3 separate regions of the Homo sapiens genome follow, and all the other regions are reported to be linked to region 3. Evidence: microRNA targets listed by miRTarBase, many of them from high-throughput screens and not tested one by one. Region 3 holds a microRNA gene; each other region holds the end of a gene's coding sequence.
Evidence for each region. Region 3 holds the annotated microRNA hsa-miR-4310 (GCAGCAUUCAUGUCCC, at 1,583-1,598, shown strand). A microRNA usually pairs through its seed, bases 2 to 8, with sites in the 3' UTR of a target mRNA and lowers its output. Matches are read on the target gene's strand: a 7mer-m8 pairs with bases 2 to 8, a 7mer-A1 pairs with bases 2 to 7 and ends in A, and an 8mer does both.

Region 1: miRTarBase lists CAND1 as a target of hsa-miR-4310. Seed matches in the 3' UTR shown: 7mer-m8 at 2,074-2,080 and 7mer-m8 at 2,837-2,843.
Region 2: the mRNA of NUP43 is a reported target of hsa-miR-4310. Seed matches in the 3' UTR shown: 7mer-m8 at 2,175-2,181.

The regions. Positions count from the first base shown.
Region 1 is chr12:67,312,068-67,316,067 of GRCh38, forward strand. CAND1 (cullin associated and neddylation dissociated 1) reads left to right here. Exons shown (of 15, transcript NM_018448.5): 15 at 539-4,000. The coding sequence ends at 763. Among named protein-coding and RNA genes, the nearest start is that of CAND1, 45 kb to the left of the region's middle.
Region 2 is chr6:149,723,524-149,727,523 of GRCh38, reverse strand. NUP43 (nucleoporin 43) reads left to right here. Exons shown (of 8, transcript NM_198887.3): 8 at 326-3,209. The coding sequence ends at 555. Among named protein-coding and RNA genes, the nearest start is that of LATS1, 7.4 kb to the right of the region's middle. RefSeq lists a silencer at 2,795-2,997.
Region 3 is chr15:41,863,951-41,868,102 of GRCh38, reverse strand. It overlaps MIR4310 (microRNA 4310), which reads left to right and starts at 1,552; the gene lies at 1,552-1,608. It overlaps SPTBN5 (spectrin beta, non-erythrocytic 5), which reads left to right. Exons shown (of 68, transcript NM_016642.4): 34 at 1-34; 35 at 461-565; 36 at 977-1,144; 37 at 1,610-1,759; 38 at 1,874-2,065; 39 at 2,200-2,295; 40 at 4,079-4,152.

The sequences.
Region 1 (4,000 bases), not on the chromosome of region 3:
CAGGCCACAAAAGAGGAAATTTTTAATTCTGGTTGGAAGGGGAGTCAGAAGGTTTCATATTAGGTTGACAACATTTGCAATGAACCTCGAAAAATCAAGATTTTTTTTTTTTTAGACCAAGAAGATGAAACGGGCTTTGAATAAAGGCCTGGAGATGTCATCATATGGTGTGTTTGAAAAAGTGAATAATAGAGTATAGCAAAGAATAGGGTAGCTAGAGGAGTACTTTCTTGATGGGGGCTAAAGTGTGAGACTTGCTAAGCAGATAGTTGAAACAAAGAGTGTCCTACTCTCTTTGTTACAATCATTTGGGTCTAGATTTTCTGTTTTTATAATGGGGCTTTGTGTAAAATATTCCCTTAAAAGAAAAGGAGACAGCTACTTTAAAAATAAGTTTAAAAACAGTTGTTCTTAGAATGTAATATGCCTTATGGACCTACGAGAGTAGCTTTTAGCAGGAAGATCTTATGTGCTTAAATTTTGTTCATGTAAGAGCTGTCTTTTATAGCATGTAATCTAAGTTTACTCCATCTTACAGGTAAAGGCAAACTCAGTAAAGCAGGAGTTTGAAAAACAAGATGAATTAAAGCGATCTGCCATGAGAGCAGTAGCAGCACTGCTAACCATTCCAGAAGCAGAGAAGAGTCCACTGATGAGTGAATTCCAGTCACAGATCAGTTCTAACCCTGAGCTGGCGGCTATCTTTGAAAGTATCCAGAAAGATTCATCATCTACTAACTTGGAATCAATGGACACTAGTTAGATGTTTGTTCACCATGGGGACCATTACATATGACCATACAATGCACTGAATTGACAGGTTAATCATAAGACATGGAAAGAGAAGTGTCTAAAAGCTTCAAAATGTTCCACTTTTTTTTCCTTCATGGAGACTGTTTGTTTGGCTTTCTTCCATTGTTGTTTTTGTAGCATTTATTTCAGAAATGTGTATTTCCATAATCCAGAGGTTGTAAAACCACTAGTGTTTTAGTGGTTACAGCAACATTTGAAATGGAAACTAAAAGTTAGGATTTTATGGAGTATGGAGATAGGGTCCAGTATCTATTTACCCTGTAATGTTTAGGATTAAAATGTTAAAATTTTGTGACCATGAATTTCTTTCTTTTATAAATTTTCTCATTTAAAAATCAAAAATCTTGCAAAACAAAAACCATGTTTCTTTTTCTTGTATAACTTTTTGTTTTCAGCAACATAAATTGATTTTTAGCTGGCAGACAAGAATATCCATATAAGATTTGTTAACCATTTCAGAGAGTTTGGCAATTTTTAAAAGATAATAAGGTATCATTTTTAAGTATGAAAATTAACAATATCCCTGTTGCGCACACTAATTTTGCATGAGTAAGTTTACAAATATGTATCGTCTGTAAAGCAGCATGTGCAGATTATTCATAATATAGAAGTTAAAATAAGTATTAGTGCAATTTTCAGATATTTATTTTTGCACAGAAAACACATTATCTGGAGAGAAAGAAAGGAGAATTTTTGAGACTTGGGTTTTCTTAATGCCAGTGTGAATTTGCAGATGTTTTCAGAAAATCAAGTCACAGTAACAATTTGCCACTTTTTTCTATTATAAATCTTCTTACTTAAATTTTGAATATTTAGTTTTTCTCAGTTACCCATTTGTGTGTGTGTGATTCCACTTAGAAATTCTTAAAACCAGATTTTTCTTTCATTCCGTTTGGATGTCTACATTCCTTATCAAAGGATATAAATACTGTGTATGCTTTTGAATTTTATTTTTAGGAAAATTCTGAAGCCAGCTATCACAGGTTTGTTAGCTAATAATAGTATTTTCTTTTAGTTGAGTTAGGTTTTTCCCCATCTCCTGTAGAGCGAATTTACATATTGTATTGGGTAAGTGTTCACTACTTTTCCTGATTAAGGGATCTGTGCTGGGGAACAAAGCTTTTGCAGTACCTTATATTGTAGTTAAAATTTTATTTAACATATCCTTCAGTGAGCTCATTTCACACTGTAGCCTCTTCCTTAAAATTTGTGGTGCTCCTGTAACAGTAAGAACTAATTCTGAAATAAAAGACATCTCCTAATGCTGTGCAAACATAGTTTACATGTATTGAAGGAGGCAGTTGTTAAATTGAGTGACCAATTTAAGCAATCAGATATTTGAAAACTGCACCCTTTAGTTTTGAAACTGTGAATTAGAAACACTTTTCCTGCTGTATTACTACCTGCTTTAACATCCAAATATACAGTGATTTTAAATGATAACATACTGTGGTTATTAGATTAACAGCTTGATTTTGAATGTTCAGATGATAATGCAGAAGACATCACTTCTAGTAAGGATTTTGACTAGTGCATTGATGTTGAAGTTGGTGCCATTTCAAAATGTGGCAGGTGATAATCTTTTACCATAATTTGCATAAAACTGTAATAGAAGTTTATTTTGAGATGTTAGTATATTATGTACTATGCATTTCTGTGGTATAGATGTTGTGGATATATTTAAGTATTTGGTTACATGGTTTTACAATAAATTACAATACTGCAGGCTCTAGGACTGAACAGGAGACTGACATGCATATGTTGTGTGAATGTCTTAGTTGGGTAAAGTTAAATCCAAATACTTCAACTGGCTTTTTCTTCAGTTTGTTTGTTTTTAACTTTCAAGATGCATGTTTTGTTTTGTTTTGCTTTGTTTTTGTCTCTTAAGCCAATTCATTTTTCTAACAGTTGAAATTCTTTTAGTACTAAAGAAATAGATACTGCTCTTTTATGGCTTTAGTGTTTATATACCTGTTTATATGCATACATTAACAAAATTAGTAACAGCAGTGCTTAGAATTTCAATGCTGTGTCATACTGATGATTAACTCCATACTCCTAGTGGTGATGTGGTCCAGATACTGGAATGGAAGTGGCAGGATGTGGAGTCCAGACATAGTCTACCACTCATGCTACTTACTAGTAATATTAAGGTGTTAAACTTAGGAATTTGTCACATGTAGGTTCCTGAGGAGATCTAAAAGTTAATACAAAACCAAGCTGTTTACTGATTTTCATGAGAACATTTAAGTTAGTTTAGGTCTACCTGATTTATTTTAAAAGAAGGCAGAGGGCTGGACGCAGTGGCTTACGCCTGTAATCCCAGCACTTTGGGAGGCCGAGGCGGGCGGATCACGAGGTCAGGAGATCGAGACTATCCTGGCTAACACTGTGAAAACCCATCTCTACTGAAAATACAAAAAATTAGCTGGGCGTGGTGGCAGACGCCTGTAGTCCTAGCTGCTACAGCTGAGGCAGGAGAATGGCGTGAACCCAGGAGGCGGAGCTGGCAGTGAGCCGAGATCACGCCACTGCACTCTGGCCTGGGCAACAGAGCGAGAGTCTGTCTCAAAAAAAAAAAAAAAAAAAAGGCAGGAAGGAAATTTGGTATGGCAGGGCCTAACCTAAAAGGTTATTTATAAAATCAATAGCACTGAATGATAATTTTTTTAATGACAGTCATGTATTTTATTAATGATATCTGAAAGCTGCTTAACCATTAGGAATTACAATTCTTTATGGTTGGAGTATGATGATTTCATCAAATGTTTGAATATTTACATAATTTTTATGTAACCATAATTAAACCAAATTAGTCTTTTTTTCTTCATACTTTTCTTCGGTAAATAGTGAAGAAATAATGGGCATATCTAATTAACCAGTTCTAGTGGGTGTTGTGATATCTTTATATCTAGTTCAGTCTCAGATGTATGAATATGATTATATAGTCATGATTGAAGTTCAAAATGAGGAAGTATACAAAATCCTCAGCCACTGAAAAATTCAGTTAACTTGTTTATACTCCTGTAAGCTCTAGTTAGTCACAAGACAAAGTATATAGTAACACTTTGTAATGAAGTAACATTTTCTGCCCACATTAATTTTACTAAAGACCTAAATTGTTAAAATTAATTGCCAATCTCTGGATATATTATGCTTAGTAAGTGTTTTGAAATTAAAGACCTTA
Region 2 (4,000 bases), not on the chromosome of region 3:
CTTATTCAACTTGTATGCTGGCCGTTTTGCTACCTTTCTGAGACTTTCCATTAAAAGATGAACAGAAAGTCAGTTGAAATCACCTGCTTTTCCTGAAGACTTCGAGTTTGGTATCCATATTATCCCATGGAAATTTGAATATTTAATATCACTGAATAAGCCTTTGGTCCAAAGTGGTGATGTATAATAATGGAATTATTAGCCTATTATTCTGAGAATTAAACACATTGATATCATCACCTTTCTAAATATCAGTAGAAGTTTGAATGTTTACTAATATAAAAATCATCTTGAAAGATTTCTTCCTTTTCTTTTTTTCTCCCAGGAGGAAGAAGCAGTACTTTTTTGTCTCATAGCATTAGTAACCAAGCTAATGTTCACCAGTCTGTCATTAGCTCCTGGCTCAGCACTGATCCTGCAAAAGACCGAATTGAAATCACAAGCTTACTTCCCAGTAGGTCTCTGTCTGTGAACACTTTGGATGTTTTAGGTCCTTGTCTTGTTTGTGGAACCGATGCAGAAGCAATTTATGTTACTAGACATCTTTTTTCGTAGAAGTACTATAATTATAAGATTTCAGATAGAACATGCAATTAGCCTTTTGAAATCCAACTTCTGTGCAAAATTTTAGTATCAGAAAATACGAGATTTGCAGGGGAAACATCAGTAAACTACCATTAATGTCAATGCCCAGTTTTGACTTTTGTTAGCCTGACACTCCCAAACAGTTGTAGAATCCGATAGATGACTGATGGCAAAAGATTGTGAACATGTGGAAGAAAATCAGTGGGATTCTGGTGCTGATGAATAGGTTGCCTTCAGAGTATTATTGACAGACAGCTTGTGGAACTAATTCTTTATTTTTGATGTTGTGGGAATTAACACATCAATGGTGGTTATGGGAACTACCAATGGGTTCCTACAATTTTTATCAGTAGTATGTGGCATATACACCTTCCTAGTGGCAGTTGCCAATGTTAATGATTATTCTTTTTATTGCAAGTATTTCCTATGATCCTTCCACACTTTATTTCCTTAATAATAATAAACTTTTTCAGAAAGAATTGAGTAGAGCAAAAATGACAAAGATGTGTAGCTGTGTTCAATTTTTTTTTTTTTTTTTTTTTGAGGCAGAGTCTTGCTCTGCTGGAGTGCGGTGGTGCAATCTCGGCTCACTGCAACCTCCACCTCCCAGGTTCAAGCAATTCTCCTGCCTCAGTCTCCTGAGTAGCTGGAACTACAGGTGTGCGCCACCACGCCCAGCTAATTTTTGTAATTTTAGTAGAGACAGAGTTTCACCATGTTGGCCAGGATGGTCTCGATCTCTTGACCTCATGATCCACCCGCCTCGACCTCCCAAAGTGCTGTGATTACAGGTGTGAGCCACTGCACCCGGCCTGAAATTTTTTTAAGGTGAAAATGTTTTGACAAGTTCCTTTTTCAGAATAGGTTTTTGAGCAGAACTCTTTCAGCTTGTTAGACCCAACTTTGCTTTTGTTTAGCTTCACAGCATAGCTGAAAGTTGCCAAACTGGACATTGTGCAATAAAGTAGAATTCTATATTGATAAGCAAACTATTTCCAAACTAAAAATGTGATAGATAAAAGTGTGATTAATCAAATGATATGATCAGAGTAAAGAATTTTGCCATTTTGATCCTTTTACTTTGTTTTAGCCACCTATAGTGTTACCAACCATCTTTATCCTTGTCTGCAGGGATAATAATGAACTAATGTAGTGTTTTAAGATAATTTAATGATACTATCTTTCCAAACTTTGTTAGATTTTAAATGTATTATTGACCTGAGACCTTAATGACAAATCACTGCTATTAGACAATTGAAGTGTTCATTTACTTTGTAATTCCAATAATCATAGTTATGGAATTATGGTAAGGTTTTGCTTTTCTGTCCTAATAAATATATATATTTTTTGAGATGGAGTTTTGCTCTTGTTGCTGAGGCTGGAGTGAAATGGCATGATCTCAGCTCACTGCAACCTCCGTCTCTTAGGTTCAAGCAATTCTCCTGCCTCAGCCTCCCGAGTAGCTGGGATTACAGGTGCTCACCACCACACCCAGCTAATTTTTGTATTTTTAGTAGAGATGGGGTTTCACTGTGTTGGCCAGGCTGGTCTTGAACTGACCTCATGATCCACCTGCCTCAGCCTCCCAAAATGCTGGGATTACAGGCTTGAGCCACTGCTCCCGGCTGATTTTTGTATTAGTAGAGACGACAGGGTTTCACCATGTTGGCCAGGGCTGGTCTCGAACTCCTGACCACAGGTAATCAGCCCGCCTCGGCCTCCCAAAGTGCTGGGATTACAGGCGTGAGCCACTTAGTATTTGTAACCATAAGAGAAAGTATATTTTAACAGCATTACATTTCATGCCAATTGACAAGTTTTGCCAATTTTAATAAGAAACTAAGCTTTATGTAATGTAACACCGTAATTTATGAATTTGTTCATTGTCACTGCCTTTATTCATGAAACTGTCAAATAGAGTGTCTTTCAAGGGTTGCAGGATCTTAGAGATAGAAAGTACCTTGGTGATCATCTCCAGCCTAAATTTCATCATCCCTTCTATGGTATTCCCAACAAATTATCATCCAACCTATACTTAAAAACATATGGTGGCCAGGCATGGTGGCTCACGCCTGTAATGCTAGCACTTTGGGAGGCCGAGGTGGGTGAAGCACCTGAGGTCAAGAGTTCGAGATCAGCCTGGCCAACATGGCGAAACCCCGTCTCCACTAAAAATGCAAAAAAAAAATTAACCGGGCGTGGTGGCAGGCATCTATAATCCCAGCTACTTGGGAGGCTGAGGCAGGAGAATTGCTCAAACCCGGGAGGCAGAGGTTGCAGTGACCCAAGATCGTGCCACTTCACTCCAGCCTGGGCAAAAGAGCAAAACGCCATCTCAAAAAATATACATATATAAGGAGATAAAGTTTCCCATTTTCCAATACAGTTTCACATTTGAACAGCCCTAATTGATACAACTTTATGGCAGGGTTTTAGTGTGTGAGTGGGATCCAAAACACTCAATCCTGTAAAAGGGTACAGTCCTATTGTATGTTAACACACTGATGATGTGAGCCTGTGAGATGAGCCAATCACCAGTTGTTATGTTCGAATCTGCTTTGTGTTGGGACGCTTTAATGTCAGGGTTTCACTAAATAAATGAATTTTCATATACTGAACTGAAATTTGCTTCTATCTGTCTTATCTCGGGAGCCACACACACAAAATTCCTCTCATCACATATTCAAATATTCAAAATTGATTATTATAGTCTCTCCAGTGAAGGTTTCCTTCTCTTTCTTTCCATTTTTGGCTAAATCCTTCTTATCCTTCAAGACTCCTTCTAGGTGTCATTTTCTCCAGACAGCTTTTATTGGCCTCCAGCAATCCGGACTAAATTGCACTCTGCTTCAAAAGCCCATTGTGCAGAACTTAAATTGTGCGCAAAGCAGTGTGTTAAGGAGCCTGTCTCCCCCTACTGGGCCACAAGATCAAGAACAGCGCCCATGTCTTCGTGTAACAGTGTTTAACAGTATCTGAACCATAGTAAGCAATGAGTCACTGTTAATTGACCTTGTTTTCACAATCTTGTTTTCCCTTTAAAAATTACTGCTCTTTGTCAAAGGCCTTTTTTTTTTTTTTTGAGACTTTAAGTCTCGCTCTGTCGCCCAGGCAGGAGTGCAATGGCACGATCTCAGCTCACTGCAACCTCTGCCTCCCAGGTTCAAGCAATTCTCCTGTTTCAGCCTCCCGAGTAGCAGGGATTACAGGTGTGCGCCCAGCTAATTTTTTGTATTTTTAGTAGAGACAGGGTTTCACCATGTTGGCCAGGCTGGTCTTGAACTCCTGACCTCAAGTGATCCACCCTCCTCCACCTCCGAAAGTGCTGGGATTATAGGCATGAGCCACCGTGCTCGGCCAGAGGCCTTCTTTTAAGTGTGACTTCCAAGATAAACACTTTTTCATATATTGTCTA
Region 3 (4,152 bases):
CGGCCGCCTGGAGGAGATCCTCGCGGCCCAGGAGGCAGGTCCCCTCCCGCCCTCACACTCCGCTCAGCCTCCTGCTCCTCCTTTCTATTCTCCTCTCTGCTCAGTCCCTTTCCTCCTGCCTCTCTGGCTTTTTCTCTAATATGAGGCAGCTGTGCACAAGTCCTTCCAGGTGGCCATGGTGAAGTGCTGAGGCCCCTGAGCGTCCACTGACATCCCCAGCCCCTATCCCAGACTGAGCCCCGAGGAAGTTGGCCAGAGGCTGGTCATGCTCCCCACATGGTGCAGAGGTTGAGGTATCGCAGCCTCCCAACCTGGACTCCCACTCCTCACAGCTCCATGCCAAGCTCAGTGGGCACTCCTAAGGCCCTGCCATACCCAGAGTGCCCATGGGCACAGACTGCAGCTGGAGGGGCTGGCTGGCTGGAAGGCTTGGTGGCCTCTGACTTTTCTGTGGATCCAGGTCTCCCTGAAAACCAGTGCCTTGGGGAGCTCGGTGGAAGAGGTAGAGCAGTTGATTCGCAAGCACGAGGTCTTCCTGAAGGTTCTGACTGCCCAGGACAAGAAGGTAATGGAGTCAGGAGGCCTGGGCGTGGTCAGAGTGTGGTGGTTGGGAGAGAGTCCTGAAGGGGGTCACGGGGCGCTTGGTGTGTTCCTGGAGGCAGTGCTGATGAGCCTGCAAGGCTGGGGTCCTGGTTGGGGTTGACTGAGCAAGTTGTATGTGTGGCTCAAGAAGAGGGCCCAGGGGGAGATGGGCCACACTGCAGAGACCCACACGGGGCATTTGGCTCTGTCCACACCGTGTGGTCCTTGGGGAGCAGACTGGTCTGGCTTGTGGCTGGGAGGATCAGATACCCCTCAGCCATGTGGGGCTGAGGAAAGGGCTCCGGGGCCCTCAAAGAAAGGACTGTGAGCCCTGCAGGCCAGGCCCTGCCCCAGCCCAGGGTGGGAGAGCAGCAGCTGTGCCCCTGCCCCACAGGAGGCAGCCCTGCGTGAGCGGCTGAAGACGCTCCGGCGCCCCCGGGTGCGGGACCGGCTTCCCATCCTGCTGCAGCGCCGGATGAGAGTGAAGGAGCTGGCGGAGAGCCGGGGACACGCCCTGCATGCCTCCCTGCTGATGGCCAGCTTCACCCAGGCCGCAACCCAGGTCAGAGGGCACCCCCAGCCCAGGGCCTTCCACTGGAACCACACTCGACAGTTTTCAGCCGCCTTCACACCGCAACACTGTGAGGCGGAAACAGGTTCGGGGGTGGATGGCTTTCCCAGAGGCTGTGCTGGAGCCCAGAACATGGGATCTAAGCCCCTTTGTGTGGAGACCTCACCAGTGTCCCGAGCTCTAGCAGCGCCAGGGCAAGAGAGGTGGGGAAGGGAGCAGAGCAGCCCAGGGCCCCAGGAGTAGGGGCCACACCTCCAAAACGAGAGCCCACCCAAGGCCCTGCCCGGCTGCCTCCTGCAGCAACCTTCCGGAGCTGGAACCTTCAGGGCTCATTTACCAGGTGCTGCCCGCCCCACCCCTGAGGCCAGCCTCCTGGGAATGGCTGGGGGCTAGGCCTGTGGCGTCTGGGGCCTGAGGCTGCAGAACATTGCAGCATTCATGTCCCACCCCCACCAGGCTGAGGACTGGATCCAGGCGTGGGCCCAGCAGCTGAAGGAGCCGGTCCCTCCTGGGGACCTGAGAGATAAGCTGAAGCCCCTGCTGAAACACCAGGCCTTTGAGGCTGAAGTCCAGGCCCATGAGGAGGTCATGACCTCTGTTGCCAAGGTAACAACCGGGCCCTCAGCCCCATGCCTGCCCCAAAGTGTGGCCCAGGGGCAATGTCAGTCTTAGGAGGAAGTGCAGCAGGCAAGATGTCCTGTGTCCCCTCTCTCCCTCCAGAAGGGAGAGGCTCTCCTGGCACAGAGTCACCCTCGAGCCGGAGAGGTCTCCCAGCGGCTGCAGGGCCTGCGGAAGCACTGGGAGGACCTGAGGCAGGCAATGGCCCTCAGGGGCCAGGAGCTGGAGGACAGGCGGAACTTCCTGGAGTTCCTGCAGAGAGTGGACCTTGCAGAGGCCTGGATCCAGGAGAAGGTGTAGCCCCAGCTGGGTGGGGGCTGAGAGATGGGGGGAGGAGCCCTCCCTTGACAGGAGGGATCCCCAGCAGCAGGTGCCAGGAGCCTGGGCTGGTGCTCACAGCGCTCCCTCCCCACCCTCGGCCTTCACAGGAGGTGAAGATGAATGTTGGTGACCTGGGCCAGGACCTGGAGCACTGCCTGCAGCTCCGACGGCGGCTCCGCGAGTTCCGAGGAAACTCGGCCGGGGTAAGAGGGCCTTGCTGGGTAGAGGTTGGCCATGCATCCCGCACTGAAAATCCAACTGAGAGCAGGGAAAGAGTGTGGGCTGTAGAGCAGGGCGTGGGCGCCATGCCTGCTCCTCCTATGCCCTCGGGCAGGCTCCCTCCTCTCACCCGCCTTCACTCCTTCCTCTTTAGAATGGGGGTAGCACCCACCTCAGAGGTAAGAGAGCACGTGTGTGGTGGCAGGTACGTGAATCTCTAGCTGTGATAAAACTGCATAGACCTATCCCCCACTGCCCCGCACAGATGCATACTTGCAAAAACTAATAAAATCTGAATGAGGTCTGGTCTAGTTGGTAGTATTACACCAACGTCAGCTTTGTGGTTTTAATGTTATCATTATATAGGATGCTGCTGTAAGGGAAGCTGGGGAAGGGCACAGGGACCTCTCTGCAGGACTTTGGCAATTTCCTGGGCATCTATAATTATTTCAAAAAATCTTAAAAAGATAGGACATATGCCTGGATGTGGCAGATAATCAGCGCCCACCTTCAGTGTGACTATTTCAGCGTCTCAGCGTCTTCTCACCCCACACCCGCCCCCTCACACATACACACACCAAACATCTATTTCTCTTATGTGGTATACAGGGGAAAAAAATGGCAAATGTATTGACAATCAGGTGTTAAAGACCAAATGTGCTAACCTTGTCCCCCGGTACATGTATGTATTACTTTTTAAGAGGCGGCAGTGCTTAAACCTAAGACATCCCTTGTTAATGGTGGAATTTCACAGACGCTGTGCCAGATGCTGCAGTAGGAAGAGAGCTAGACTCCAAAGGAGCTGGGCTTGAATCCTGGCTCTGCCGCAAAGGAGCCAGGTTAGCCTCTGAGCTCTGCTCCGGCATCTATAAAAGGAGGGGAATGTCCTTCCCTGCCTACCTTGCAAATGAGGCACTTCATAGGAAAGTGCTTTGGAAATTTAAACAAGCTCTACAGAAGCCAGAGGCAGGAGATCTGCAATCACACCCTGCGGTGGACCCCCTCCCTGCGTACCTTTAAACCCCATCCAGTGTCCAAGCAGCACCAGCCTCAGCTCAGACGAGTCCTGGGGTGGGGACACCCAAACCCCAGGAAGCCAGAGCTCACTGTTCCATTCCACAACCTCCCTTTGCTTCTCTTCAACCAAGAAGCCGAATTTTCATTTTAAAAGTTTCTGTGGCTGGGCACAGTGGCTCACGCTTGTAATCCCAGCAGTTTGGGAGGCCAAGGCGGGCAGATCACTTGAGGTCAGTAGTTTGAGACAAGCCTGGCCAACATGGTGAAACCCCATCTCTACGAAAAATACAAAACTTAGCCAGGCTTGGTGGCAGGCACCTGTAGTGCCAGCTACTCGGGAGGCTGAGGTAGGAGAATCGCTTGAACCAGGGAGGTAGAGGTTGCAGTGAGCTGAGATTGTGCCACTACAACAACAGTGCAACAGAGGGAGACTCCGTCTCAAGAGTCTCTGTTAGTGAGCATGTGCCCACTCTCCCCCTCCTACATGGTACCCAGTGCAGGGATCCCATTTTCTGGCCTTAGAGATGACTCTGGGGCTGCAGGCTCCAAGCTGATCTTGCTCACTTCACCTGGACGGGGTGACCTCAGGGACCTGCCGCAGTAGAGGAGGCAGGAGGCAGTTCTTCCCACTGCCCAAATATGCAGTTCCTCATGCTCCGGGGCCCAGGCATGCTTTCAGTGCCTGCTGAGGTGGGAAGAAGGGGCTCTGCATGGGGGGTGCCAATGCCCTCACCCATACCTCCCCTGCAGGACACAGTGGGTGATGCCTGCATCAGGAGCATCAGTGACTTGTCACTGCAGCTCAAGAACCGGGACCCTGAGGA